5 separate regions of the Homo sapiens genome follow, and all the other regions are reported to be linked to region 1. Evidence: microRNA targets listed by miRTarBase, many of them from high-throughput screens and not tested one by one. Region 1 holds a microRNA gene; each other region holds the end of a gene's coding sequence.
Evidence for each region. Region 1 holds the annotated microRNA hsa-miR-3174 (UAGUGAGUUAGAGAUGCAGAGCC, at 2,663-2,685, shown strand). A microRNA usually pairs through its seed, bases 2 to 8, with sites in the 3' UTR of a target mRNA and lowers its output. Matches are read on the target gene's strand: a 7mer-m8 pairs with bases 2 to 8, a 7mer-A1 pairs with bases 2 to 7 and ends in A, and an 8mer does both.

Region 2: miRTarBase lists SDR39U1 as a target of hsa-miR-3174. Seed matches in the 3' UTR shown: 7mer-A1 at 5,025-5,031.
Region 3: miRTarBase lists TNNI1 as a target of hsa-miR-3174. Seed matches in the 3' UTR shown: 8mer at 4,214-4,221 and 7mer-m8 at 4,338-4,344.
Region 4: the mRNA of MRPS23 is a reported target of hsa-miR-3174. Seed matches in the 3' UTR shown: 7mer-m8 at 1,631-1,637.
Region 5: miRTarBase lists KIAA0040 as a target of hsa-miR-3174. Seed matches in the 3' UTR shown: 7mer-m8 at 3,449-3,455.

What each region holds. Positions count from the first base shown.
Region 1 is chr15:90,004,102-90,010,154 of GRCh38, forward strand. MIR3174 (microRNA 3174) reads left to right here and starts at 2,654; the gene lies at 2,654-2,740. All of the region lies in intron 1 of ZNF710 (zinc finger protein 710), which reads left to right.
Region 2 is chr14:24,434,743-24,440,795 of GRCh38, forward strand. It overlaps SDR39U1 (short chain dehydrogenase/reductase family 39U member 1), which reads right to left. Exons shown (of 6, transcript NM_020195.3): 5 at 6,041-6,053; 6 at 5,024-5,750. The coding sequence ends at 5,341. KHNYN (KH and NYN domain containing) reads left to right here. Exons shown (of 8, transcript NM_015299.3): 6 at 1,330-1,437; 7 at 1,646-1,747; 8 at 2,294-6,053. The coding sequence ends at 2,543. Among named protein-coding and RNA genes, the nearest start is that of SDR39U1, 5.0 kb to the right of the region's middle.
Region 3 is chr1:201,406,275-201,412,327 of GRCh38, reverse strand. TNNI1 (troponin I1, slow skeletal type) reads left to right here. Exons shown (of 9, transcript NM_003281.4): 7 at 795-971; 8 at 1,893-2,002; 9 at 3,078-6,053. The coding sequence ends at 2,000. It overlaps LOC101929343 (a long non-coding RNA gene), which reads right to left. Exons shown (of 2, transcript XR_241172.3): 2 at 5,959-6,053. Among named protein-coding and RNA genes, the nearest start is that of LAD1, 10 kb to the right of the region's middle. RefSeq lists an enhancer at 3,977-4,056.
Region 4 is chr17:57,835,323-57,841,375 of GRCh38, reverse strand. It overlaps MRPS23 (mitochondrial ribosomal protein S23), which reads left to right. Exons shown (of 5, transcript NM_016070.4): 3 at 116-193; 4 at 324-450; 5 at 1,441-6,053. The coding sequence ends at 1,593. Among named protein-coding and RNA genes, the nearest start is that of MRPS23, 12 kb to the left of the region's middle.
Region 5 is chr1:175,155,671-175,161,723 of GRCh38, reverse strand. KIAA0040 reads left to right here. Exons shown (of 4, transcript NM_014656.3): 4 at 578-4,738. The coding sequence starts at 711. The coding sequence ends at 1,010. Among named protein-coding and RNA genes, the nearest start is that of KIAA0040, 34 kb to the left of the region's middle.

The sequences.
Region 1 (6,053 bases):
GGGTCATTTCCATTCCAACCAGGCATTTCCTACCAGGGAGACTTATTTTAGGCTCACTGTCTAGAGACAAGGAGACAGACAAGGTCTGGAATGGTTTTTGAGTTGGAGGAAGGGAGACTAATGGGACCACCAGAGATTTTGCACTTCTATTTTAGGTTTGCCTTGTGGCCCAGAGATATTTCTAGCAGAGTTGTGTTTGGAAAGAAGCACAACTTCTTTCTAGAAGGGAGTAAATAAATAAATAAAGGAGGAGTCCAGCGCATCTTGGAGGAGACAAGTGAAGTCAGCTCCCTGGCCCCACCAGTGCTGATGCTTGGCGCAGGCTCATAATCTGGCTTGCTGACCCCTCCCATACCCTCGTTCCTCAGGCCTAGCCAGGGCCTAGCCCGCGGCAGGACTCATTATGTTGAAATAAGGAATCTGTGAATGTGCTGGGCCTGCTGTTAATGGTGCTTGCTCCCAGCCCTTTGACTTCAAAGCTGGAAGAAGGCCTTAGAGATTGTCTGAAAGCAACTGAGGCAGGAAGAAAGCTCTGTACCCAGGATTACACAGTAAGTGGCAGAGCCAGCACTCAACCTGAGCTTTCAGAGCCTGTTCCCAGTGCTGTTTCTACAAGGCCACTGTCTCTGCTACTGCTGGGGATCCCGAATCAAGCTCACTTCAAAGAATGTAGCTATGAGAGCATGAAACCGTGCGCTCACGCCGCACACGAGTTGGGTAAATGGAGCGCCTCATTTTCCAGATGTGTTACAGAAACTGTGCTGGAGGATGTGACTGGCCAGTGAGACAACTAGGGGGAACTGGGTGATTCAGGCTGTTTCAACACTGACTTCTTCAAAGTCCAACAATCAGAGAAGCAGTTTAGTCATCGGGATTTTCTCACATCACACCATTTTTTGATCTGGAATGCTTTCTTCATACTTTGACTTGTATGTGATTTATTTAGGATTGGTCAGGAGAGAAGAGAAGGAGTGTAAGGACCCAAGACCTGAACTGATTTCCATCTGTGGGTTAAATGTACTAGAACGTTTGTGAGGGTAGACGTCTTTGCTTTGTTCATTGCGGAGCCCCTGTGCCTAGAATAGGGTCTGATCTATAGTGGGCCCTCAGTAGATACTTGCTGAATGAATGTACTGGACATTAGGGAAGATTTGCCTGCCAGAAGGAACCCATGAATGACACAGGCAGGGACAGGGAGGTGATTGATGGGAGCTGCAGAGTTGTGCTGTGAGTCATTGCTTCAAACAAGCTCCAGACAGGTGAGGCAGGAGGGGGCTGGGAAGAGAGGATCCTGAATGGGGTGGAGCCCCTGGGTGGAGACTTGTGCAAAACAATAGGTTTTTTTAGATTTTTTTTTTCTTTTTTTGAGACGGAGTCTCACTCTTTCACCAGGCTGGAGTGCAGTGGCGCGATCTCAGCTCACTGCAACCTTCGCCTCCTGGCTTCAAGCGATTCTCCTGCCTCAGCCTCCTGAGTAGCTGGGACTACAGGCATGCGCCACTACACCCAGCCTAATTTTTATATTTTTAGTAGAGACGGGGTTTCACCAGGTTGGCCAGGATGGTCTCGATCTCTTCACCTCGTGATCTGCCCGCCTCGGCCTCCCAAAGTGCTGGGATTACAGGCGTGAGCCACTGCACCCGGCCTAAAACAATAGGTTTTGAATTGGACTCAGAATATAGGGAGAATAATAATAATCATGTGTCTTAGGCCAGAATTATGCTACGTGCTTTGTGTATTTGTCTCTCTTAGTTCTTGCAGGTGCTGGCTCTTGCATTCTTATCCTCATTTGGCAGAGGAGTTAAATAACTTGTCCAAGGGCACAGAGCTGGTATCTAAACCCAGGCTGTCTAACTTCAAACTTTGCCTCTCAGGAACGATGATGTGGTCATATGTCTCTGCCCATGCCAAAGAGTTGGGCGTTCAGCACTTTGGGGTTCCTTGGAAGGACAGCAGCAGAAAAACTAAAGAAGAAATTGTGGGTCTGCAGCAGAGGGAGGCTGGTCAGGGAGTGTGCCTGAAGAGGGTTCACCCAGTGAGGCCTATAAGGGAATGCTTATTTTAGGGGCCTAACTGTTCCTCAAGCAGAGTGGCTGTTGTGAGATTAGGGCTATTTTGCACTTGATAAAGATGTAGGAGATCTTTTTATGGGCAAAGATTGCTTTTCAGGTTAAAGTTTAGTTGGCATATATTTGAAACTAGTGGGAATTTTAAAACTAAGAAATGTCCTTTTTGGCCTTGATACCACCAGAGGCTGTTTGCCACATGTGTAAACATTACCTGCCTGCTCCAGGATGCTGGCCCAGCCTGTTCCAGACCACAGCAGCTCCTCATTCATTGGCAGTCTGTGATGTGCTAGACACTGTGCAGGTCCCGTCCTCGTGAAGCTTGCAGTCTCCCTGGGAGGCAGGCATTAAACTAATAATTACACAAATACTCTTTAATTACAGTGGTTATAAATGCTTCAAAGGAAAAAGTACAGAGGCATAGAAGCCAGTAATCATGGAGAGGGGGAGGGGAGGCTTTCCTGAAGAAAGGACATTTAAATAGCCACCTGCAGTGTGGATGAAGAGGCTTTAACCAGGGTGGTACAGTTCATTAACCTTGATGTGAACCTTGCCACTCCATATGTGGTCCATGGACCAGCATCAGCGTTACCTGGTAGTGAGTTAGAGATGCAGAGCCCTGGGCTCCTCAGCAAACCTACTGGATCTGCATTTTAATTCACATGCATGGTAATGTCTGTAAAGCACTGATGGACTCAAAAGTACTGAAATGACAGGTTCTCAGCTTTGCTGGGAGCTCATTGGGTGACGCTGGGAAAGTCACCCTGGGGTGACTTCTCTGATGTTTGGCTTTTTCCAGTTTGTGCTGTCTACCTGCTTGTTGAGGGTGACCCACCCCTGTGTTGCTGTTGATGGAGACCCTGCAGACTCTAGTCCATGCTCTGGTCTGACTTCTGTAAGCACTGAAGATGGGCTGAACCATCAGAGCTTTTGATAAGGATCAGAATAATTCCCTAAAAGTGTGTGGAGCTGCACACAGAGATTGTCTTAAGGTGACCCTGGGAGGATTTGGCCTGAAGCAAGAGAAAAACTGGCAAGGGTCAAAAGGGCTTTGGGGAGGAAAGGTGTAACGTTTCTGCCAAAAGCGGAACCTAAAACGGGGAGAGAGAGGCACCTGCTCAATAGTTCCATGCATGGGAACATAATACTTTTAAGAATTGCCTCAGAGTTTTATCCCTGAGACCTTCACATCACTGTAGAGAAGACCAGACGGTTGAAATCAGGGGTCCTGGACTCTTGCAGTGTGTGGGTGGGCTTCAAGGGTCAGGGGTACTTGAAACTGTGCAGAAGGTTACATGTGTGCACTTTTCTGGGAAGAGGAGCCGTAGCTTTCACTGGCCTCAAGGGAGATTGCGGCTCTAAGAATTTGTCAAATGTCTTACTGGACTAACCTCACCCAACTCTCTTGTTATACAGCACATGCGATATGCCAGGCATAATTGTAAACACTTTATACATACTGTTAGCTCATTTAGGTTGAATACCTTTCTGGAGGTCACAGATCTAGTAAGCCTCAGAGCCAGGATTAGAACCCAGGCACTGGGGTCCCAGAGTCGCTGGTTGCAAAGCCTACCCTAGTAACAGGGCAAGCAGGACTAGGGGCGAGCTCTTTTTTGGTAGCACAGATGAAGAGGCTCACCCCCACCCCCACTTTACAAGTAAGCATCTCCCCAGTTGTTCATGTAAAACATAGAAAGCATTTTCCCAAGGAAGCACCTTGTGAATAGCTCCAGGTTGCCAGGCTAGCCCATGAAAGCCTGTATCACTGTTGGGCCCAACTCATGCTTGTTTGCAAAGAAAGTAATTAGAAAACAAAACTGCTGCCGCACCAAAGGCTAAATTAAAAATTCTAGAATTGGAAAGAAGGCACTTGAAGAATTGCACCCTTAAATCAGGGAGGTAAGGTGGCAACAGGAAATTGGGGTAGATTCTGAAAGGGAGGGATTAAAGGATGTTACAGCCAAAGCACAGCCAAATATATGTTGAATCAGCAGCTTCAAAAGGTAAAACAACTGTTTTTTATTACCTACTAATTAATGTGTATGGCTCACAGACCTGACCCTTCCCCCATCCCTAGTGCCTACCCCAAGTACAGAGGCCTTTTGTCTTTTCTCTCATTCATTTTGTGTTGTTTGAATTTTTATCCAGTATGTATTATCTTTATTATATACATGTAGTATATATATATGTATAGTACATATGTGTATATATATGTATATGTGTATATATGTATATAGTATACGTGTGTGTGTGTGTGTGTATATATATATATACATATATATATATGTATATATATATACATGAAGTAAAAGAACTATTAGAAGTGGGTTGGAGGCCGGGCACAGTGGCTCATGCCTGTAATCACAGGACTTTGGGAGGCCCAGGCAGGAGGATTGCTTGAGCCCAGGAGTTTGAGAACAGCCTGGGCAACATAGTGAGACCCTGTCTCTACAAAAAAGTTTTATAAATCAGTCGGTGGCACGTGTAGCTGTAGTCCCAGCTACTTAAGAGACTGAGGTGGGAGGATCGCTTGAGCCCAGGAGGTTGAGGCTGCAGTGAGCTATGATGGCCTCAGTGTACTCCAGCCTGAAAACCCTGTCTCAAAAAAAAAAAGAAAAGAAGTGGGTTGGTCTCTTTCGCAATCACCATTGTAAAGGATTTTCTGATATTAAATACATATGCTCTATTGTGTGTTTATTTCTGGGAGAACTAAGAAAACTGTTGGAAATGTGAGGATTTTTAGTGTAGTCGGAAGCTGAGAATAAGTGATCATATTGCGACCCAACTATTTTCCCTTTCTTCTTTCCCTGCCCCCAGCATGTTATATATATGGAATCGAAATGAAGTTAGAATGGTCACTACAGAAAGCAGGAATGTCCACCCTCCGCATTTAAATGGGAAACTATAACTTTTGTGATAACTCTTGGTTATGTGTGTTTTTGTCTTCTGGATGGTACCTGAAATGCCATCCCGGACCCCATCCCGTTCTCGGTGGGACTGCAAGGATATGGGCTTCCAGACTGGGAAGACTGTCCTGCATGTGTTTGGTAAAAGACAACGGCTAAAACCTGGGGCACATCAGAATGTCCTCGCAAGGACCAAGTCCAAGCTGGCCCCTTGAGAAGCATCAGGTACCCTTTGGAAGCTGGTAGTGCTGGTCAGTTTAATCTCACTCTGTGATGTCCGATCCTCGGGCCCTGGGCTCACAAGCCATCGCTTCCCATCGTGGCTCCATTCTGTAGCTGCAAATCACAAGACTGTAGACTTGCCATTACCCAGAAGCAGGTCACCTCTGAAATTCAGAACTCTTCCTGTCCTCCCACTACACAGCACTCCTTGAAGCAGCCCTGCCCACCCCTGCCCCAACCTGGGAAATCTGTGCCCACTTCCCTGGTCCATTCCCCATGTGCCCACCATCAGCCCCACTGCTTGTTCCTCTGTGTCCTGCCCTGGCTTCCTCCCTAGGTCTGGGCACCCCACATCCTCCTATGCCTTAATTCTCTACCTACAGCTACAGTCACACCTCTCTCTCCCTCCCCAACCCCAACCTGTGTCACTTCTCTTTACCCTAGGATTTCACAAAGAAGAGTCCACTCTGTCCCCACTTCCTCTCTCCCCCTCTTCTCCTTGCCAGCTCAACAACAGTGGAGCGTTTCAGCCCAGCCCACTCTCACTCCAGCTGGCTCTCCTAGAGGTCCCTGGCCACCTACTCATGCCCAGTGGCCCATCTTGTGTGACTTCCTCTTACCTGACTGCCCGGTGGCCCATCTTGTGACTTCCTCTTACCTGACTTCTCCATAGCAGTTATTGTCATGAATAGTCTTCTCCACCTTGGGTCTGGCTCATCACTCTGGGTCCTTTTCCTACCTCTCTCATCTGTTTTTTTGTACCATTCTTTCCTGTTGCTATGCTTTGGTGCCTTGGCCACAGTTCATTGCTACTTGCTTACCTACCATGACTGTGGTTTCAGCCTGTATAGGACTCTTG
Region 2 (6,053 bases), not on the chromosome of region 1:
CAGAAGCTCAGAGCCTGATATCTGTCACACCTAATCCTGACTCCCAGTTCCCCCTATACCACACTATCTTTCAAATACTGACTGCTCACTTAGTACTAGGTGCATGGCCTGCAGGAGGAGGTGGGAACACTGGGAACAAGATCTGATTCTTGACTAGAGAGCCGAAAGAAACCATAAATCAAACACTACAGGAACTCAGAGGGAAAGGAGCCCCATTCTGGCTGGGGTTTTGTGGGAAAGGAGAGATTTGTGAGTTTTTGTGTTGAGAAGACTGGGATGGGTTGGATCTCTGTTTCTAAATCTGTTAAAAAGACCACCACCCATCACTTCATGAGTCCTACCCTGTCTTGTGGAATCAGAATTACTGAATGGAGCCCAGGCATTTTTTAAAAAAGTTCCCTTGGTAATTCTGTTCCTTAGCAAGTCTTGGGAAGTGCCTTCCAGATAGAGGAAATAGTTGGAGAAATATGGAAGTCAGCATAAGACATATGTGGAGAGCAGAGTGTAATCTGATTATTGATTTTAGCTGGAGTTGAGAGTGGGTTAGGGAATATTGGGAGAGATAAGGCTGTAAGGGTGATTTGAGCTGGCCTGTAGAAGGCCTTAGCTGCCAGGCCTGGGTGTGTGGACTTTATTTGGTAAATAAAGGGCAAGTGTGGAAGAGTTTTGTGTAGGTGATAAGCATGCTTTCTTGGGGCAGGGCAGGGGAGACTGGAGGGTGGGTGAGTGGTCAGAGGCGGGGACCCCCTTGTTAGGAGGTTATGCATAATCTCAGTTGCAATATCTGAATTACTGGGGTGGTAATGGTGGGCCTGGGAAGGAAGGGAGCAGAGCACAAGGCTTTTCAAAGGAAAGGCATGTTGGATTTGCAAGGGATTGGTTGGGCAGGGTGGAAGACAGAGCTAGATCTTACTGTTTACTAACGAGGCACAAAGTGTTGGGTGAAGGACTATGGTTGGCAGATAGGATGCTACTGGGAGACCACCTTGGATTCATCTTTGTTTCCTCTCTAGGCCATGGCACTTGCATCTAGTCAGTTGCCTGTAGCTGGGTCAAGGTGAGGTAGGGGGCCAGATCTCCATCACCAGAAGTGGCCTATGGGAGACAGTAAAACTTCTGGGGTTGGGGCCTTGGAGAGTCCCAAATGGTTGCTGTGGTTTTTACTTTTATTTTTGTAGATTTGGGGGATACCAATACAGTTTTGCTACATAGATATATTGCATAGTGGTGAAGTCTAGGCTTTTAATGTAACCATGATCCAAACAGTGAACATTGTACCCAGTAGGTAATTTTTCAACCCTCTCTCGGTTGCTGTGGTTTTGGAGACAGGTTCATGGTGAAGCTGGCTGAAGAGACAGATGGGATAATTGTCTCCAATGACCAGTTCCGGGACCTGGCGGAGGAGTCTGAGAAGTGGATGGCAATCATCAGAGAACGGTGAGGGAGCCCTCCCGCTGAGAACTGGGCACAGATGCAGATGTTTTTCTAAAGCCAGCTCTGCTCTGGCCATGGGGTGAAAACTCTGGGAAGGAGGTGAAGTTTTCTTGAAGGATGGAGCCAGCAGCTTCTGGTGATACTGGTCTCGGTTGTCTGGGAGGTGGGCAAGGGCCCCCTCTGTGACCACACATTATCTTTCGCCATCCAGCCTGCTGCCCTTTACCTTTGTGGGAAACCTCTTCATGGTACCTGATGACCCACTGGGGCGAAACGGCCCCACCCTGGATGAATTTCTGAAGAAGCCAGCCAGGTAATCAATCCCCTAGACTACTTACAGGCAGCCCCCACCCCTGGCCCTCTCTCAGCAGGCCCAGAGACTTGGGTGGAAGTGTGACCTCAGTTTGGGCCAGCTTAATTTTGCAGTGGTTTGAGTTGCATTGGCCTTGGCCTTTATAAGCTTCCCAGGGGATCCTGACATAGAACCTCCTTGCTGGGAGGGAAACACCTGCTTCCTGTTTCTCTTAATCAGCATGTTTGATGGAGTTATTTGGAAAATGGTTGCTTATACTGACAGCCAGTTGTATTCAGCATGCCTTCTGCTGACCATTACATAAGTGATTCATTTAGGACTAGAACTAGATCATAATAGTGGCAGAGTTCACCCTGTTTCTAAAAGAACGGCCCATCTTCCCTTCAGAAGTGGGTTGATACTGCCACTCAGTGGTCAGCTTCAGGAACTTCAGGATTTCTCCCCCAAAGCCAGGAATAGGCAGGACAATTACGAGAGGGGTGCCCACTAAGATCTAATTTCCCCCCCAGGATGCTCATCAGCTCTTTTTGGTCTGTTTCTTCCCAGGACACAGGGGTCTTCTAAGGCTCAGCATCCTTCCAGGGGCTTTGCAGAACATGGTAAACAGCAGCAGGGGAGAGAAGAGGAAAAAGGTAGTGGTGGCATTCGGAAGACCCGGGAAACAGAGCGGCTCCGGCGGCAGCTGCTGGAGGTGTTTTGGGGTCAGGATCACAAAGTGGACTTCATCCTGCAGCGGGAGCCATACTGCCGGGACATCAACCAACTGTCTGAGGCCCTGCTCAGTCTTAACTTTTGAGCCTCACCTGCTTGAGTGGCTGCCGCCCTGTCAGCTCCAGCCGCCTCCAGCTCAGCCCTTTCTGTGAGAGTCCCTCTGCTGCTCACTCTGATCCAGAGGCACCCTGAGTTGGTGCTTTGGATCAGGGAAGCCACTTTGGGACAGGTCCATAAAGTGAACTGATCTTACCGAGTCAGGACCTCAGCCAGCTCTCAAGAGGTTCTGCTCAGCCTTAACTTCTCAACTTTGCCTTAGCACAGGGTTTCTGTAGGGAGTGGGGGCTGCTAGAGGGGATTAGTTCCGGAGACTGAGACTGTTGGCTCCACCTCCAAGCTGAGCTAGGGTGGAGGGCAGGGTGGGCAGGAAGTGACAGGAAGTTAAGCTGTTCCTCTCCCTGGCTGCTGCTCTGGATGGCCAGAGAACAAGATGCTCCCTTGCTGAGCTCCTGGGAGCGTGGAAGGAGATGCTAGGCCCTGGCACAGTGTTATGTGGACTGGGCCACGATAGGGTGGAGTGAGCTAGTGAAGAAGGCAGAGGGAGACTTGGCTTCTGGTCTCAGCTATGCCTGTTTTGTGACCTTGATTGAGTTGCTTGGGCTTTACTTCTGCCTACAAATCAGGGGTAAAAATACCTGTTGGGAGGAGAAATGAGAACATAGAGGAAAGCCTCTTGGAGGAAAGGTGCTTGGACCAAGTCTCAGGTGTGTCTGCCTGTGGCTGCACAGGCTCTCTAACCGAAACCTCACTTTCAGAGAGATGTGGGTCCTTTGTCTCCAGGATCCACACCCTAGATTTTAACACTGCATTCTCACTATAACGTGCCCTATAATGGCTGCATCCCTTTTGAGCAACCTCCAAAATCTACATTTACACAGTAGGTAAATTAGGGATGACTGCATTATCAAAATACTCTCAGGGTTCCTATAAATGGCAGCTCTCCTGTTGTATTCAGGTGTTGTTTACAGACTAACAAATGTGTTGGCAAATCCCTGGTTAGATGCACTTCCTGGTGTTGAGATGAACACGTCGATTTTTCACCAATCGATGAAGCCATGCTCTGCAATGACAATATTAATGTGATCCGACCCTAACATTTTCTCTATGGAAGACGTATGTTGCATAAAGCAAGGCACACTTCTGCTTTATGTGTGTGTGTATGGGGATGGGAGGACTTAACGGAAGTTGAACCAGTTGGTTCTAGATGAACCAATTATCTGGAAAATGAAAGAACCAGAGTTGGAAGGCACTTGACTGGCCACCAGACCAACTCTGCTGTTACTGACATGCTTTCTTCACCCTGATTCCTAGAGGTCATTGCCCTGGATCTGCTTGAAGTCCTCCTGTGCCAGGGAATTTACTATCTCCAGGGTAGCACATTCCCTGTGTAGACGGTATTAATCAGTACTCCTTACTTTAGTGCAGCCTAAAGTATGCTTTTCTGTTACATCCACCTTTGAGGCTGGTCATACCTCCAGGAACAATACAGAGCCAGTCAACTTCCTGGAATCCAAGACCAGATAAAGAAGTAGGACAGGTGCCCCTGGGTTCTGTTCTGTGTGGGCCTGTGGGGAGTCTCTAGACAAGATCTTTTCCAGGCCCTGACTTCTGCCTCCCTCTGAGTGGCACAGGGAGTTGAATACTGCATGGCGAGTGTAATGATGATGGGGAGGGTCCTTGTGTCCTCACCCCTTCCTTTTTGGTGATTTACACCACTGTACCATACTGACCCAGGCTGGGGGCAGGTGTGTTGGAGACAGGCTGGTCAAAGAGGTGACAATGATTAAGAGATAACCCAGCGGTCCCTGAGAAGAGATTGGTTAGTATGGCCTGAACTGGTGGCTGGGGGAACTGTGTCTGGTCAAGTTATGGCAGATGTCACAGCTTTAGGTAGGTAAAAAGGGTCCTAGATGAAAACCTTGGAGTTTTTTTTTTTCCTGATAGGGTTGTTTATACTTCTTGATTGGTTTCTTGCCATTTTCACTTTCAGTGATGGTGGGTGTGCAGTAGACCAAAAGTGTCTTCTGCCCTTTTGTGCTAAGGGCCCTGGTTGACTGAGTGGCCCCAGTCAGATGAGAGGCAAGTCCTAAGCTTCTTATAGACAGGGATGTTGACTTTGTTCTGCTGCAGCCTGATAAACTGGGACCACTGTGTGGTTAGTAATGCACTTGCCATTTGGTGACACAGACTGAAGGCTATCCTACACCTGGGCCTTACCTCTTCCTCTACTGGCATCCTAATGGCACTCTGACAGCATCCAGGGTGACTACAGGGCCCATTGGAAATGGATCATCATTCTCTCTTCTAGTGTCTATCTTTATCATAACCTGATGTCCCAAACTTGTGACAAGTTCTTTTGGCAACTGAAGGACCAAGAAGGGAAACGGTGATGAGAGAGACTGCTCATTGTAACTTTCAAAACCCCGTCTTTGGGGAAGAATCATCTAGGGTGACATTCCTTGAAGTAAATCCCAGGAGAATCTAGGCCAAAGAGATGAGCCAAGGTTAGTGAGACAATTTATTTTTATTGCCTAAACTGCAGAGCATTCTCTACACAGCGTAAAGGAGAAGTGGGGCAGCTGCAGGACATGTAGAGAAACCAAACTGGGAAATCTTACAAGGAGTTGAAAAGATTAATGTCCCAACCTGATGAGATTACGGCCTTGAGACAATAAGGTGGAGCAACAGAACAATGGGAAAGAGGACTGGGAGAGGAATCTAAGAACCAGATGGCTTCAGCTCTCTAGAGGAGCTGAGCCTATTCACAGTGCCTAACCTGGAAGCCTGTGAGGAACAGGCCTCAGGCCCTTGCCACGACCTACTTAGGCTACAATTTCCTTTAAGGCAGCCCCTAGCTCTGGGAAGGAATACTGGTAGCCAGTGGCCAGTGTTCGCTGTGGGATCACCTTCTGGCCCTCCAGCAGCATGATGGCACGCTGTCGCCCAAAGACAGCTTGCACCACAGCGCTGGGGAGAGGGATGAAGGCTCGGCGGCCCAGGGCAGCACCCAAGGTCTGGGCAAACTCAGCATTAGTGGCGGAGGATGGAGCCACTCCATTCAGGACCCCGTGCACGTGGTTTGCTTCAAGGGCATGGGTCAGGATTCCTGCCAGGTCCCCGATGTGTATCCAGGGGAAGAATTGGTGGCCTGAGCCGATGGGGCCCCCCAGGCCCAGGCGAAAGGGCAGCAGCATGTGGCCCATGGCACCACCCCCACGGCCCAGCACAACCCCTAGAGCAGGAAAGAGGGAAGGTACAGGGGTCCTCTCAGCCTTGAAGGAGCCCACTGCTCCTCCTGGTTTCTGTTTCCCCTTCCTCACTCTCCCCATGCTGACTTGGCTCTGTAACAGAAGTGAGCAGTATGGCTGTCTTTAAGACCTCACACCTTCTCATCTGCAGGTTGGCTAGAAGTGGTGGCATCCTCTCACTCTGTAATTGTAATCTCAGCTCTCCTAATCCCATCACTTCCCCAGCCCAGAGAAGACATTCCAACCCTGTCTGATACCCAGGCCCGTTTCTCACCTGAGCGCACCAC
Region 3 (6,053 bases), not on the chromosome of region 1:
ACACCCTGGGAATTCCTCCAGGGGTCTAGGACCTGTAAGTTTATCACCCTGCTGGACCAAGGCTGTGAGCTGCTTTGAAGGCTCACTGGGGAGGAATAAGTTAGAAGCAGGGATGAGGCTGCAGGAACAAGAGGAAGCAGCCCTGCACTCCAAATAGGGCTTCCAAATCAGACAAGTCTCAGTCTGGTGGAGCCGCCCCTTTTATTCAAGGCTATAGTGTTAGCAACGGCTAATAGGCTTTATCTGTCCACTTAACCATCCGTTTATCAGCAAATGTGCAGTGGTTATTTGCAAAGGGATGGGTGGGTCTGACTGTCCTAGAGCAGGGATCTCCAACTCTTGGGCTGTGGACCAGTACCTGTCCGTGGCCTGTTAGGAACTGGGCCACACTGCAGCAGGTGAGCAGTGGGCAAATGAGCATTCCCGCCTGAGCTCTGCCTCCTGTCAGATCAGCGGCGGCATTAGATTCTCACAGGAGTGTGAACCCTATTGTGAACTGTGCATGTGAGGGATCTAGGTTGCACGCTCCTTATGAGAATCAAACTCATGCCTGATGGTCTGAGGTGGAACAGTTTCATCCTGAAACCACCCCACCACCTCTCCGTGGAAAAAGTGTCTTCCACAAAACCGGTCCCTGGTGACAAAAAGGTTGGTGACTGCTGATAGGTCTGGCTTCAAGGGTGGACAATTTAAGGTGTATCTCTGGCTGGAACCCTAGCAGTCTGAGGTCCTCAGGAAGGGTGTCCTGTGGCTAGCTGCCTCTCCAGTGAGCCCCGGGCGCTTCTCACCTACAGATTAAGGACCTGAAGCTGAAGGTGATGGACCTCCGTGGGAAGTTCAAGCGCCCGCCCCTGCGTCGAGTCCGTGTCTCGGCTGACGCCATGCTCCGGGCCCTGCTGGGCTCCAAGCACAAGGTGTCCATGGATCTGCGGGCCAACCTCAAGTCTGTGAAGAAGGAAGACACAGAGAAGGTGAGGTCCCTTTCCTCAGAACATTCCACCCTCTGCCCTACCAGCTTTCCCCTTGTCAACCCCTCACATGGCCTCAGGCTGGCCCAGGAGCTCCTGTTGGAGACCAGTCAGCTTGACAGACAGAACATTCTAGAATGCTTTGGGAGACCAGTGTGGGAAGAAAGAAAGAAGATTTGCTCCCTTCCTTCAGGCTGTTCCCAGTCTGACGAAGAAACTAGGACATAAAGAAAGCTAGACCCCAGACGGAGAAATGAAGTAAAAATCTTGTTCCCAGTGTGAAGATAATGTGGAGATTTAGGGTAATGGTGGAGATGACTGCCTGGTCACCACAGGGAAAGGAGACAGCAGCTCATCTTGGTTATAGCCACACACGAGCATAGACATTAGAGAACTGAGTTCAACCACCCAGCAACAAATTATTCAAAGTTGGTTGAATTCACAGTATATGTGCCCCAAATTGATAGGCTCTGTAAGGAACAGGGATGAAGGAACAGTCTCTGGCCCAAGAAGCTTCAGAGGAGAAGAGATAAGCCAGACAATATACTGAGGAAATGGAAAAGCAGCCGCATTTGCAGGGGAAGACTTCTTGGAAGAGGTGGCCTTGAGCCTGCTGAGTGCCAGACCAGGAGGGTGGCATGGAGCCTTGGAGGAGGTTTTGCTGAGGTGCACTGAGGTGGGAACTAGCCCCATAGCTGCCACTTTCACCCAGTGCTCCCAAGCCACACAGCTTCCTTTTTCCTGTGGGGCCTCGGCTTGGCCTGTGTCCACCTGCCTGGCTGAGTCCTAGGACCTTACCAGCTGGGGAGGGGCATCAGGATTTCTTATCATCCGAGGAGACTGGTTTCCTATCACCCAGCTTCTCTTGAGCTGGGGGGCCGTCCAGCCTGGTAAGTCCCTGATGTGTGTGCCACTTGTCTACAGGAGCGGCCTGTGGAGGTGGGTGACTGGAGGAAGAACGTGGAGGCCATGTCTGGCATGGAAGGCCGGAAGAAGATGTTTGATGCCGCCAAGTCTCCGACCTCACAATAGAGGTACCTAGAGACCAGCTCCCTTCTCTGGGGTCCATCAGAGTCTAGAGGATAATGAGGGAGTCCACAATGGGCAGGCGGGTTGTACTTAGTGTGGTGCACGGATGCACGGACTAAGGCACCGATGAGACTGATTTGAGTCGGCTCTCCTGGGCTCAGTCCTGGCTCCAGCACCATGATACTTGGGCATGTCATTTCTGTTTGGCGGCCCTTTTTGTTCCCATTATCTATGAAATTGGGGGCTGTATCAAATCAGTGGTTCTCCAAGTGTGGTCCTGGGACCAGCAGCGTCTACATCACCTGGGATGCAAATGATCAGCCCCCACCCCAGATCCACTAAATTGGAAACTCTGGGGTGAGGCCAGCCTTCTAGGTGATTCTGATGCACATGAGAGTTTGAGAACCACTAGGTTAGAGGGTCCCTGGGATCCCTTCATCTCTGACTTTCTGAGAATCTATGCACTTTTAAATACCTCCTGGTGATGTCCTTTATTTGTGCTCCCTGCGAAGTACCCAGCACTCACAGTACCTGTTCCCAAGGAGCTACCACTCACAGAAGCTAAGACTTCCCACCATCTGAGGAAATAGCTGGAGAAACTGGGCAAAGCAAGGAAATCAGGCCACGTAAAACCCTCTACGGAAGTGCTGAGAGAATGTGCAATAGGGCAGGCATCCACCAGACAGCACTGGTCAGAGCAGGCTTTCTGGAGAGGAGGAGCTCTCTGAGGATGCGACGAGCGAGTGTTAGCTGATAAAGGGAAGGGCATGTTGAAGGGCTGATGGTGCAACAGAAGCATGGAGGTGGGAATTAAGCAGCCACAGAGTAGCATGGCAAGGCTAGGTAAGAGCTGAGGGCCGCAGTGTGGAGGAGCGGTGTGAGGGGTCCCAAAAGGGGAGCAACTGTGCCCGAGGGCCGAGAAGCTGAGGTTTTGTAGGAGCCCTTATGAATGAAGATCCAGTCCGGGGTGCGCTAGGGCTGAGAAGCCCTGGGGACTGCATGTGCTGTAGGTAAGTCAGGGATTCATGCGCTGCACACAGGTCCCCGGGAACTGATGGCTTTGCCTCTTTGTCCCTACAGGCCAGCTTGCTGTGCTGCGCTCTGAGCTCCTGCTTCATGCTTCTTCTCCAACCCAGCTCACTCACCTCTCTGCCTGTGTCTGGAGCATCCCTTCCCACCTCTCCCCCACTTCTTCCCTCCAGCCTGCATGCCCTCCTCTGGAACTGGGATTAAACAGATACCCAAGAGGCAGGAAAAACGCGAGTGTCTGAAGACCTCACCCTGGCAGGGTGGGCTTCTATCCACCCATGAGGCACCTGGGGCTTCTCAGCCACCCCGTGGTGTAACAAGTGGAGGAGGAGGAGGGGGTGAGAACACCTTTCCTCCAGCCCTGTGCCACACTCCTTCTATGTGTGTACAGTGTCCACAGGCATCACACCTTCTTCATTAAAAACCCAGTTTCCTGGTCATTTCTGCAGCTCTGACTGTGAGCCCTGAGAAGAAAGGGAAGACTTGGGGCTTGGGAAGAGAGGGCTGTGCTGGGCTCCAGTCACCCTGTCTGCAGTCCGGAGCTCGGGATCTGAAGGGAGGGCTAAGGAATTGGTGGCTGCTTGCCAGGGTCCCCTGGGGCCCCTTCTGCCCAGTCCCTGTGACGTCACACTGCACACACTCACCACCCAGGATGCTCAGCTCACCAGAGCCCTGACCTCCGAGAAATGACCCCGTCCTGCCCCTGACTCTGGCCATCAGAAGAGGCCTCTCCATTAAGAGCCGCTTCTCCTGCCGGCTTTCATACTCTCCTTCCTCTGCAAACCTGGATTAACTCTCCCTGATGTGTGCTGGGTTGAGAGGTCAGGGCACTTTCAATCCCTCACCTAGTCCTGCTGCACAGGGCAGGAGGCCTCACAGAAGAGATACTTGCAGTTCCAGGCCTGGCCACCAGGTGACGCCTTCCTTCTCTCCTGGGCTCTCCTGTCCCTCCGGCCTCTGCTCTCCCCACGTTCACCCACCCTCCTCCCAATTGTTTCCCCTTCACACTCCTGCACTGGTCCTATCCCCCAGGACTGATTCTTTCCCGGAGATGGGGTGGCCACTTATCTGTCCTCTGGATCAGGTCCTTTCTCCATCCCACTACCTCCTGGGTCCAAAGCCTGGTGAGAGCATAGGGCCTTCTGGGGTGGAAGGGGGGTCTGGGGCAGCCTCTCTTCCCCCAACATACTCACTAGAGTGGCTCCTGTGAAGCAGAGACCAAAGTTCTGACTTTTCTTTTTCCTTTTTTTTTTTTTTTTGAGATGGAGTCTCGCTGTGTCACCCAGGCTGGAGTGCAGTGACGCGATCTCGACTCACTGCAACCTCCGCCTCCCAGGTTCAAGCGATTCTCCTGCTTCAACCTCCTGAGTAGCTGGGATTACAGGTGCGTGCCACCACACCCCGCTAATTTTTGTATTTTTAGTAGAGACAGGGTTTCACCATGTTGGTCAGGCTGGTCTCGAACTCCTGACCTCGTAATCTGCCCACCTCGGCCTCCCAAAGTTCTGGGATTACAGGTGTGAGCGACCACATCCGGTCAAGTTCTGACTTTTCAGGGCAGTGGGATGGTGACTTCTGAGCTAAGCCTGCAAGGGAAGTGGCTGTTCCCAGACCTGGGGTCCCTTGGCTTTTCGACCACCCTAGCACTGGCCCTAGGAGGGGCTGAGTTATCAGAGCAGCAACCCTTCTACCCACCCTACTGAGTCCCCATTCTACCTTCGAATCCCATGTATTATCTTCCATAAGTGCCAGAAATTGGTACAAAGTGCAGTGCCAGCTGCTCCCCAGGGCATGGTCTGGCTCTCTGGGCTGCTGGGCTGCCAGCCCCTTTCAGAAAGCATGGCAGTGGGAACCAGCAACTTGGGCTACCTTAGGGGAAGCAGCACTCTGCCCAGGGTTCTTGCTATAAATAGGTCAGTGGGCAGAGAGGCAGATGTGTGCAAAAAGCACAACCCCAATCACACACAGAAACCCGTAGGCACGGACACACCCAGTCTCAATGCACGAAGTTGGAGAACCTGACAGGGCTGGTCCAGGCCACAGAGGATGGGGTTAGGCTTCATGCCTTCATGCCCAGGCAGCCACAGAAACCCACTCTTCCCCGCCTCACAGGGCTCCTCCGGTTGGCCTGGATCCAAAGCGATCTCCTTGTTTCACCTCTTTCCAGCTCTTCCCTAGAGCCTGGCCCCAAGTTCCAGAGTCAAATCCCAGTTTTGCAGTCAACTATTAACCTGGGGCCCTGGCAGATTGGGGTATCCACCCAGTCATGTAAAGGCAGGAGACCTGCTCTGGGCCTGACTCAAAGCAAACACGTGGGTGCAGAAGACCCATGGGAGGAGGAGGTGGGGCCCACTCAACACACCTAAGCCAGTGGCCCTCTAGGAGGGGCAGAAGAGCCAACCAGAGGGTTCCTGGAGGTCATCGGGTTCCTCCTTCTGCTTCCAGGCAGCAACAGACCTAATTCATCTCCTGTGAGGATGGAGCAAGGGCGAATATAGGCATAGACATATCTGGAGCGCAAGGATTGAGAGGCCCTGTGGACAAGGGGAAGGAGAGCTTGGGGGTGGGAGAGGGATCTATGGAAGGGGCTGTTGTAGCCAAGAATGGGGCCTGGGCTGGGGGCCTGGCCTCTGGAGAGCCCTGATTCTACTCCAGTCTTCTCTCACCATGGAGACAACACCAGTAGAGCTGGGAGCTGGGGCCTGCCACTGAGTAACAGCTCACACATGTAGCACACTTATGCGTCAGGCACCAGCATGTACACCTTAATTTATTTAACTTTCACAACAACCCTAGGAGAAAGGTACAGCTACTATTCTCATGGTACAGTGGGGAAAACTGAGGCACAGAGAGGTTAGGGACTTTTCATGATCACACAGCTAATAAGTGGTGGTCCCAGGATTCAACCCAAGAAGTCTGTTAGAATCCATACTCTTATCGACTATTTTAATAACAGCATTTCAATAATAGTAATATGTGATGTTAAATGCTTTATCTGAGTTATATCATTGCATTCTCACAAAAATG
Region 4 (6,053 bases), not on the chromosome of region 1:
GGGTTATACCGTACTTAACTCCTCAGTGCCTAGCACTTATTCTTTATTTCTTTTATTCCATTCTCATCCACAGTCTATAATCGGAGATTTATATTATGTTGTTTGCATTTTCTAGGAAGTTTTATTCAGTGTATGGGTCTGGTCAAAGAGCTTTTGATCTATTCAATCCAAACTTCAAGTCTACCTGTCAACGGTAAGCCATTTTATAAGTCCTAGGCTATTCATATTATTTTTTAAGGATTTTGTTATCCATTTGATATTGTGTAACAGCGTCTTAACAATGCTTACAAACATACCTAAAATGTGACTGCTTGGAATTACAGGTTTGTGGAGAAGTACACTGAGCTACAGAAACTTGGAGAAACAGATGAAGAGAAGTTATTTGTGGAAACAGGGAAGGCTTTATTGGCAGAAGGTGTCATTTTAAGACGAGTAGGCGAAGCAAGGACTGTGAGTATTTCATTGTTAAAATTGTTACTGGGTTTATAGTTGTCCCTCAGTATGCACAGGGGATTGGTGCTAGGGCCCCTGCAGATACCAATATTCACAGATGCTGAAATACCTTTTATAAAGTGCTGTGGTTTTTGCATATAACCTACACATATCCTCCCATATACTTTAATCATCTCTAAATCATTTATAATACATAACACATTGTAAATGCTATGTAAGTAGTTATACTCTATTTTTAAAAATTTATATTTTTTATTTTATTTATTTATTGTTAAAATATTTTTGATCCGTGGTTTGTTGAATCTGCATATGTGGAACCTGTAGATGCAGAGGGTTGACCAGAGTTGCCAATCTGATGGAAGTTAAAGAGAGACTTGGTTTTCTTTCCCTAACCTTGGCTTATGTTCTTAAACTCCAGGTCAAATACTGTTACACTGAATATACTAGAATTTTGTGGTAATGACTGCTACTTGAAACAAGTGAGTCGTCATTAGGGCTTTTGAAATTTGGTTCTATAGACTTTTTTTTTTTTTTTTGAGACGGAGTCTCGCTCTGTCACCCAGGCTGGAGTGCAGTGGCGCAGTCTTGGCTCACTGCAAGCTCTGCCTCCTAGGTTCATGCCATTCTCCTGCCTCAGCCTCCCGAGTAGCTGGGACCACAGGCGCCTGCCACCATGCTCAGCTAATTTTTTGTAGCTTTAGAAGAGACGGGGTTTCACCGTGTTAGCCAGGATGGTCTTGATCTCCTGACCTCGTGATCCGCCCGCCTCAGCCTCCCAAAGTGCTGGGATTACAGGCGTGAGCCACCACGCCCGGCCCTATAGACTTTTTAAAATCATGTTTACTATTTGTTATAGTAGAATTGGATCTAAGATATTAGTGCTAAATTTTTCACTCAGTGACAGAATGTGCCTAGTTATATATCTTTAGCGAATTAATTGAGTGAAAATGATAACATCTCTGTGATACTTAAATCTGGTCTTTTAAGCAACACGGAGGTAGTCACGTTTCCCGGAAATCCGAACACTTGAGTGTCAGACCACAGACTGCGTTGGAAGAAAACGAGACTCAGAAAGAAGTTCCACAGGACCAGCATTTGGAGGCACCTGCAGACCAGTCGAAAGGTCTCTTGCCTCCCTGAAGGACCTGTATACTGTGTATGCTGGCATTCACACTCTACTCACTGGCTGAATGTTGAGCTATTTTTAAACAGTTGAACTGTGTAAATGTTTCTTGATCTCTAAGGTATTATGTTTGCCTTCTCTTAGTTATTTCTGGGTTGTCACAAAGCTCAGTATCATGGTTTGACAGAAGCAGTTATGTGAACTTTTATGTTAGGACATTACTAAATAAAGAATTCCCTAGCTGCTTATAAAGTAAATTTACTTTGAATTGTAAATAACATGAAGAAACCTTTATAAAGATTGTTCAAATGGGACTCAATCTGACTAGGCTTGCTTTGATGTTTGTTAGTATGTGGGCTGGCTACATCTGATTCCCGGGTACATATTTCTTCTGATCCATCAGACTTATACGTGTACACATGTTGTGGAACCTTGGCTAGCTGGTTTTGTCTGCAGAGAATCTTTGTACTTCTTGCTATAGAACGATTATCTCTCCACTTGAGAGGCCAAGCTGACTTGCGCTTTGTGGTAAGAGTGAGGACCTGTCATTGCTGATACACAAAGACCAAAACTGTAACTTTAATGTCATGGATTGAGTGTGCTGGAGACAGTTAACATAGGCCTGCACAGACTAGGCTGTTCAGTAAATACTTGTTGAATGAATGAGTGAACGAATGGTTATATCCAGCTAAAGACTGGATTCATATGGTGTAGATAACAGGATTGCCAAGAAAGGAGGCAGCTAATTTAGGTGATGCTCTCCACCAGCATCCACCTGCCTCCCTGGGGCCAAAGTGTGCCTACAAGTCCTTATCAACTTCCCTGCCTTCCTCGTTTCCCCAGGTTTTACTAAATACATGAAATATCCCTCTGAGATTGCAGCCTTTGTATATGTGGTCAAGCCAGTGGTTTTTAGCTGTTAGTAGTAAGCTGCTTCAGAAATTCCCTATTTTAAAACTCATGTAGATTTTCTACCCAGTGATTCTTTGTGTATGCTCTCATCTCTCCTGGTACACTGTGAGGCAGGTCCACATCTCACAGTCTGTATATAGTACACATCCATGCACGTGGGTGCTTGGTTCATGCAGGTGAATGAATACATTAGGCAAAAGCAGCTCTCAGCCATGCTGCTTCCCCCTCGACCTTTATCACTGTTTCACAACTGCTTGCATTTGGAGAATGCTTTACTTTTCCGTAGGGAAGTAAATTTCATCCATTCAGAGACATTACACAACCATTGAGACCAAACATCGGGCCAGACCTTGGGAAGAGGACTTAAAAAGCAGGTGAAAGACACAGTCTATTCTCAGAGGAACAATTGAGGGGTCACTCATCTCTTTAAACCTTAGGTTTCTGGTTTTTTAAGGGCAGGTTTTTTTTGCCACAATGATGAATATTTAAAAAATGTTTTTTTCCTTCATGTCTGGATTGATGTCCCATTTTTGCTATTTTTGTTTGTTTTCCTCCTCTGTAGATTTTTAATTTTTTTTTTTTTTTTTTTTTTTTTTTTGCGATGGAGTATCACTTTGTTTCCCAGGCTGGAGTACAGTGGAGCCATCTTGGCCCACTGCAACCTCCGCCTCCCAGGTTCAAGCAGTTCTTCTGCCTCAGCCTCCCAAGTAGCTGGGATTACAGGTGTATGCTATGACGCCCGGCTAATTTTTGTATTTTTAGTAGAAACGGGCTTTTAACCATGTTGCCCAGGCTGATCTCAAACTGCTGGCCTCAAGTGATCCACCCATCTCAACCTCCCAAAATGCTGGGATTACGGGTGTTAGCCACCATGCCTGGCCTTAATTTTTTTTTTTTTTAATTTTGTTTTAGGAGATGGGGGTCTCACTGTGTTACCCAGGCTGGGTGCAGTGGTGCATACCCTGCCGCAGTCTTAACTCCTGGGCTGAAGCCATCCTGGCTCACTTCCCGAATAGCTAGGACTATAGGCATGTGCCACCACGCCTGGCTCTTTAACATTTTTTTTGTTTGTTTTTTTTTGTAGAGATGGAGTCTTGCTATGTTGCCCAGGCTGGCCTGGTCTCAAACTCCTGGCCTCAAGCGATCCTCCTGCCTCAGCCGCCCAAAGTGCTGGGATTACAGGCCTGAGCGACCGTACTGGGGCTGAAGACTTTTAAAGAAGTTATTTGTTGCATAATTCTTTAAAAAAATTATACATGCACATGGTTCAAAACTTAACAGTAAAAAGCTAGTCTCCCACCCCTGTTCCCCAGCCACCCTTTTCCCCTTCCCTGAGGCCATCACTATCACCATTTCCTTGTGCGCTCTTCCAGAAATATTTTGGGCATGGACAGGACACTATGCATACTGTTCTGTACCTTGCTTTTCTAGTTACTATGTCTCAGAGATCCACTGTGATTTAATCAGTGCCCGATTGAAGAAAATGTTCTTTGTTTTACTGTGTTGCAAATGGGCTGCTAGAGTTATGGGATGCTGGATCAAGGAGCAGATCATTTTGAGTTTTGATATCTTCGTCCATAGAAATTGTGCTTAACTATACTCTCATAGCAATGTATGAGAATGCGTTCCCCTACACATTCTGATCTTGTTAAACCAGACTGGGACTCTGGACCAGAAGGGAAAGACCATCCCTGTATAGCAAATATCTGGATGGGGAGAAAGCTGCTGTCACTCATTGACTTCTTTAGGTTAAGTCTTAGTGATCAAAACATAGTGAAAGATATGAAGCTTACTTTGGAAACTCAGAACTATTTCCACAGTTTGGGCAAAAGCTGTCATCAGATCCCCATCACGTTTTGGAGAGAATGGAAGCATGACCGCATTCTTGGCTTTAAAGAGCTTAAAATCAGGCCGGGCTCCATGGCTCACGCCTGTAATCCCAGCACTTTGGGAGGCCAAGGTGGGCGGATCACCTGAGGTCAGGAGTTCGAGACCAGCCTGGCCAACATAGTGAAACCCCATCTTTACTAAAAATACAAAAAAATTAGCTGGGCGTGCGGGCGTGTGCCTGTAATACCAGCTACCCGGGAGGCTGAGGCAGGAGAATCGCTGGAACCCAGGAGGCAGAGGCTGCAGTTGAGCCGAGATTGTGCCACTGCACTCCAGCTTGGGCGACAGAGCAAGACCCTGTCTCAAAAAAAAAAAAAAAAAAATCTTAAAATCGAGTTGGGACTACAAGAGTGACTTGTGAAACAGCAAGATGAACAGGAATCCTTTTAAACTTTGATATAAAAGTACAGTAGAGGTTCAGGGGCAAGGAATCAGTTCTGGATTTGTCTAGGAATACTGCATGAGAGCCTGGAAAGGCAGTGGGATGGACATGTACATGCGGTTTCTTTGGGCAGGAACACCCTCCCTTCTACCATGGTCTGTAGGAATTGAACCTTCCGTGCCGTTTTCAAATGCTGTCTGTGCTCGGAAAATACATAATATCAAGTCCCTTACTGAACCCCCTACAGATTGTGTTCATAAGGTGCTTCACTGCTGTTGGTCTACCTGGCCTACTGTTTGTACTCCTGCCTCATTTACTGTGGCCTTCATTCAAGTAGTAATGATTATTTACCTATTAAGAGTATAGGGTGGGCGTGGTGGCTCATGTAATCCCAGCACTTTGGGAAGTCAAGATGGGTAGATCACTTGAAGTCAGGAGTTTGAGACCAGCCTGGGCAACATGATGAAACCCCATCTCTACTAAAAATACAAAAGTTAGCTGGATGTGGTGGCAGCCTCCTGTAATCCCAACTACTCGGCAGGCTGAGGCAGGAGAATCGCTTGAACCCAGGAGGTGGAGGTTACAGTGAGCTGAGATCATGCTACAGCACCCCAGCCTGGGCGACAGAAGAGAGACACTGTCTCAAAAAAAAAAAAAAAAAAAGTATAAAGGAGGGCAGAAATTCTTATTCTTTTAACCCATTGAAACATTAAACAGCCTTTCAGGAGCAGACCCTCCTACGGATTTGCTGAATCCAAGGCGAGGAAGGCATATATCCAGGTTACAGTGAAGTTTGCCCCAGACAAGTAATGAAGATTTGGGTTCTAGATCTGGATACTCCAGGCAGTTTTTACTATGTGACCCTGTGCCTGTCACAGTATTTCAGCCTGTAAAATATGGACAATGTTTGCCTTTTTGGCTTCCAGTTAGCTTTGTGAGGATTAATTGAGATGAGTGCAAAGCTCATTTGTAATGTGTGGCTGGTGGTTTTATTACTATTTTGAGCAGTAGTGGAAAAGCCCATTTGAACTGGTAGGATGAGATAAGATCATGGTGGCCTTGACAACTACATGGAGGAGCCAGTTGGGTATGGGAAAGTTTGAGCAGGGAAAGAAAGAATGTAGTGAAAGCAGTGTCAGGTCAAAGAAAGGTTTGCCTAGGAGTGATGTAAAGAATGGGATGGAGGAGTGGGCAGGGAAGGAGGAAAGAGGAGACATGTCAGAGGGACCAAAAAGGAGGCAGCAAGTCCAAGGTCACAAACCTGAGTGACTAGAAAACTTAGCAGCATCACTA
Region 5 (6,053 bases), not on the chromosome of region 1:
GCACGGAAAGCAGGCATGGGGCAGGATGAGGACTGATGACCTCTTAGCCCAGAGGAGACCCAGGTTCCCTACTACAGACAGCAAGAAGTAGACATCTCACTTTGTGCTTAAGCTTCAATAAGCTTTGAAAATGGCAAGTTATGTTAATAAAAGGTTACATACAGACCTGTCCTGTGGGGAGTGTGTGTTCAACATCTGTCAGGTGAGCTACAGTGGAAAAAAGATTGAGAACTGCTGTTGCAGAAGGGTCCAGGGAAGCAACCCCTTATCAGAACACTGAACACACACATTGATTCATTTATCCAACAACTACTGAGAACTTCCTACGTGCCAGACCTGATATACTATTCATTTTTATATCCTAAGCCCAATATAATGTGTGTACATAGCAAGAATTAGTTGATGCTTATTGATTACATGCATGCATTTATCTTGTTTATTGAGTCAATACAAGTTTACTGAACCCTGGAAATCTTCAATTCCTTCCCCTTTCCTAAGCCTAAAATCTATGACACTATTAAAATTGTAGACCAGTCCCCCTGCATTTCTCTTCAGTTGTCTGTTTTAATCTCTTCAGGTGCTGCCAGTGGCATGCCCAAACCCAAAGCTGGAAGAGGAATAAATTACAAGTGGTCAAGGTTGCATCCTTTTGAGCCCAGGACCTGCTTGTAAGCCGAGAGGGTTCTCTGGCCCTAATCTAGCCAAGCACCATGGAGAGAATCAGTGCCTTCTTCAGCTCTATCTGGGACACCATCTTGACCAAACACCAAGAAGGCATCTACAACACCATCTGCCTGGGAGTCCTCCTGGGCCTGCCACTCTTGGTGATCATCACACTCCTCTTCATCTGTTGCCATTGCTGCTGGAGCCCACCAGGCAAGAGGGGCCAGCAGCCAGAGAAGAACAAGAAGAAGAAGAAGAAGAAGAAGAAGAAGGATGAAGAAGACCTCTGGATCTCTGCTCAACCCAAGCTTCTCCAGATGGAGAAGAGACCATCACTGCCTGTTTAGTTAGGCAGGAAGCAGAGGTGTTTCCTTTCTGGGGCTAAGCCTCCTTCTGACCACACACAGACATTTCAGGAACCCCTGAAATAATGCACTATGTCCATGTCCACAGAGTAACTACTCAACCAAGGAACAAACCTCAGACTAAGTGTCCCAGTGGAGGGCAGTCCCAGGGACCACGTGGACAATTCTTGGATACTGTCTTGGCAGCTATGTGTCCAATAGCAATGCTCCTTACTGCAGACCCAGGCATGCCTCCCACCTGTCTCTGGCATACCCCACATGCAAAGCACAAAGAACATTTATCCATACATCTCAATATGGTTCCCAAGTGTGTGCACATGCACGTAACACACACACACACAAATTCAGGTAGCAGGTACGTGGGCAAGTATATTCTGCTCATCAAATGGTCATTGGCTATGTACTTTGTGCAGGGAAGTACATTATCTACAGTCACAAAAATGTCTCATGGGAAAGCCTTGCCAGATTCAGACACATATATACAATTTCCTAACCAGCAAGGCCCCCATACACCATCTATTCCATAAACCACTCAGGTTACAGATGCATGCTTTCCTATTTCTAACTCTACACATAAACTTTTACTGGAAGTACTCATAATTGGACATTCCAGCAACCTGCTACAGTCCCCACCCTTGTGTGTCTTGATACAGACACACCAAGTTTCTGTGCCTCTGACCCCTCACCTGTGCCAAGATGTTTAAAGTGTGATGGTTCAAAATTCATTGAAAGCTCTTTTCTTGTAACTCATGACAAAGTCCGTCCTCATTGCCACTGAGAGGTGTTTAATGTGATCCAAGACCTCTCTGTGAAACATTACCCCCGCAAACCACTCAGCAAAGTGCCTTTCTCCAAGCAAGAACAAAGAGCTCTTGGTGGTGACTGCTAGAAAATTATGGAAGCCCACTCATTTATGTCAGTGGACTGCAACTGTGTACCTGTGCAATGTTTACAGATGGAAAGGGTGAGGAGATGCTACACCTGAGCTAGGTATCTCCTATATAACCAAAGTTTCCAGCAGGGAAGGAACTAGACAATCATCAGTGCAGTCTCACAGAAGGCAACACTGGAAGTGATGTCATAAGGTTGTGATGTGTGCACGGTATGGCACAGGTGGGATGCAGAGGTAACAGAGTTTAAATGAAAGTAGGATGAAGCTATAAAGAGGTTTATTTATATTTATATTGAAGCTCAGGCAAGTGCCTTGCACACAGTAGGTACTTATAACTAACTGTGGTTACTGTTGGATATGTGATGTTGTTAAGGGTAAGCTTGTAATACCTCACCAGTTCTCCCCGAGTGATCTTCTCTTCTAAGTGAGCCCACTAATTGCTGCAATGGATGAAATTGGGTGTTTAATGCTGGAGAGCACATGTAGGTGACACATGTGCCTTGAGGTATGTGAGGACATGTAAATTAGATCCACAGTGAGCTGAGGAGGGCTTTCCCCGCCAGAGTGAGGTTGGGAAGCAGAGTTAATCCACTTATAGGATGAACTGCTTGGTATTTTTATTGTATTGTGACTGTATTACAAAGATGGACAATTCACTCCTTGGGAGCAAGTTATGCTCTAGAAGTTTATTTACAAATATGCTGGGCAGCTCTCTTGAAATATTTTCCCAAGGAAGCTATTCTACACAGTGGCAAAATTGCTATCTAATTAATAATGTAGCTAAACTATGATATTTATAGTAGCAAAAAACTAAATTCTATAAGATTGCATTAAAGGAAAGATATATTCTATTTGCTCACTTGGGCTGCTTGGTACTCACCTGCCCTCCAGGTGTACTTTAGGCCTGTGGAGGGTGGGCATTTAGTGGTGACCCTTGCACCAGGGTTTTCTAACAGATGACCCTGTGAATCATAATTTAAACCTGCATATATTTTATAGCCAGTCACATTTGCCCTCTCACCCTATATGGCCATAAACTGCCTAAGCACTCAGGCCTCCCACTCATCAACCCCTTTGACCAGAGAAAGAAGCACTCTGGTTCTCTATCCCCTTGTCACATAGAGAGTTTGTCATGGGGCCTCTGGCTGTGCCCTTCACATAACAGAATGACTTGCCATCTGCCTGCACCAAACCCAGGGATGTGGAAGACATCTCCCCACAACTGCCACTGCTCACCAGGACAAGCTGCCCTTCCTGTCTCCACCTCTCAGTCCCCCTAGAATGGATGGCTGGGGAGAGGTGGAGGCTGACAGCTGAGACGTAGTGTCAGATATGATCTAGGAGGGCGGATCACCGGGATCCGGGACCATACAAGTAACATGGTTTCCATGGCAACTGCTTGCTCCTTTGAATTAAGACAGCAGTCAGTTGTCATTGCCATGACAAGGCCTCTATCTCCAGGCACAATGTCCCTGCTGTCTCCTAATCCAATGGACTTGCTCTCACCCCAGGGATGAAACACCCAGAAACTCACTTCTCAGTCACTTCCACAGCCGATGACTCAGAAGAGCCAAACCCAGAATGGGGCCTCTCTTTTCCCCATCACAGACTCCCCTGACAACCTTTCCTGGCGTAACTAGAGGAGTCCCAGTGCAGGATAGGCCCTAAACGTTTTGTTAAATAAACAGGTGCATGAAAGGAGCCTAAGGCCATTGTTGATATCCACTCTCTTCTTTCCACTTCCTTCTCATCTTTTTCTCCATGTTTTATGCTTCTCTGATTCCCTCTTCTGCCTGCACCAGACCAGCCCCAGCCCTTTATTCCTCTCCATTTTCACTCCTTCCAGCCTCTGTCCCTGAACTGCCACTGGCAACCCATGGGACCTCAGGACCAGAGACTGCTTGACTCATCTGGGGAGGGTAAGTTCACGGGGGACAAAAAAATGATTCCTAAAGAAGAGGCTTCCTAGACCAGCACAGGCTCGAGAAAGACATCCCCTAGGCCTGGACTTCTGAGCAGCTTTAGCCAGGCTCCGGACGGCAGCCAGAGGAGGCCTTTCCCCATTGCTCCTTTCCCCATTGCTCAATGGATTCCATGTTTCTTTTTCTTGGGGGGAGCAGGGAGGGAGAAAGGTAGAAAAATGGCAGCCACCTTTCCAAGAAAAATATAAAGGGTCCAAGCTGTATAGTATTTGTCAGTATTTTTTTCTGTAAAATTCAAACACACACAAAAGAAAAATTTATTTAAATAAAATACTTTGAAAATGAAAAGTCTTGATGTAGTCAGATGGTTACTCTCTTAACATTAGGTATTACCCCCACTCAGACATCACTCAGAAATGATCAATGCAGGGACTCTTTCTGTGACACAAATGTCCCAGCCCTCCCTGGTCACCGCCTTCGCCATGGTAGAGTCATAGGTCTGAGGATGAGGAATGTGGCTGTCTCACCCTTGCTTGCAAAACAGATGGCCTTGGAGACCAGACTCCCTCAAAGGTGCCAGCTACAGGAAAAATATACTGATGTTCCTTGGCAACACTTACAGAACTTTCCATCAATGAGGTCCATCAATGGCTTCTTAAAGGAAAAGGGGGGAAATAGCAAAAACCTAAGGAAGAATGGACCTTTGAGTTAAATCCAGTGTTTGTTGGGAAAGGAGGGATCAAAAACCTCTATAGTAGCCACTAGGGCAAAAACTGTGTGTATGTGTGTGTGTAAGTGTGTGTACACTGTTCAATATGGTTCAATATGGTACCAATAGCCACATGTGACTATTTAAATTCATTGCAATGAAATAAAATTAAAGGTATACTAGCTCAGCTATGTCTGCCATATTTCTTTTTTCTTTTTTTTTTTTTTTTTTTTTTGAGATGGAGTCTTGCTCTGTCATCCAGGCTGGAATACAGTGGTATGATCTTGGCTCACTGCAACTTACACCTCCCGAGTTCAAGTAATTCTCATGCTTCAGCCACCTGAGTAGCTGGGATGACAGGCATGTGCCACCATGCCCAGCTAATTTTTTTTATATTTTAGTAAAGATGGGGTTTCACCATACTGGCCAGGCTGGTCTTGAACTCCTGGCCTCAAGTGACCCGCCAGCTTCCCAAAGTGCTGGGATTATAGGCATGGGCAACTGCGCTTGGCCATGCCAGCCACGATTCAAGTGCTCAGTAGCTACACGTGGCTAGCGGCTGCCATCCTGGACAGCATAGGTCTATGATCTTGGGGGCAGGGTCAGACACCTGGGAAAAACAGCCATGCTGACTGGATTTCAAGGAGGGCTTAAGAAGGAAGGCCTAGAGCACAGGTGGACTCTTTGCCTTATCTCGCCCAAGGCAGGTTATGTCTGTAGTTCAGATGAGTTCATTCCTGGGCTCCCTTCCCCATCACCACACACTCATGACAACCAGAGAACAGAGACTCTTCATTCAGCTCCTTGTTCATCCACCCAGGACATTGCTAAACATTCTGGTGCAGAGGAGGAACTGATGCTCAGAAACCATCTGGGAGGGGAGCAGCTGCTGCACCCCTGAGGGGATGCCAGTGCTCAATGCCTGCAGCCGCACCTGCCCCGGCTCCATCCTGGCCTTGGGGTATAATATGGATTTGGACAATGAATGCCATCACGTCCTTAGCATTCTCAGTTTATCACAGCACTCTGCACTGGCCCCTTGCCCGTTGACCTTAGTAGTATTTCCCAATTCAAAGTCACAGGTTTACTGGACTGGAAAAAAATCCCTTCAACCCGCTTTCTGTCTTAGACTCAAAGGGTTGTTTTCAAACACCTGTGTGGGCAATGTCACACTATATTTCTTCAGGAATGGCTGTGACTGTGTACCTCCAGCCCTCTTTTGAGGCTGTTCATCCCATTAACATTTCTGACTGTTTACTATATGCCAAGCACGCTAGGTGCCAGTGATACTAAGTTGTCCTAGAGGGGCTCAGAACCTGGTAGGGGGGCACAGACAAGCAAACCATGACAAGACAGTGTGGCCATTGCTTCCTTAGAGGGAAGCTCCCAGGCTGGCTTCAGGACAGGCCGGGGGAGATCGCCTAGGAGGTGTCTAGAGACTTGCACAGGAAGAAACTGAGAAAGGAGGGCCCCAGCTGCACAGTCTACAAAGGCAAGTGCAC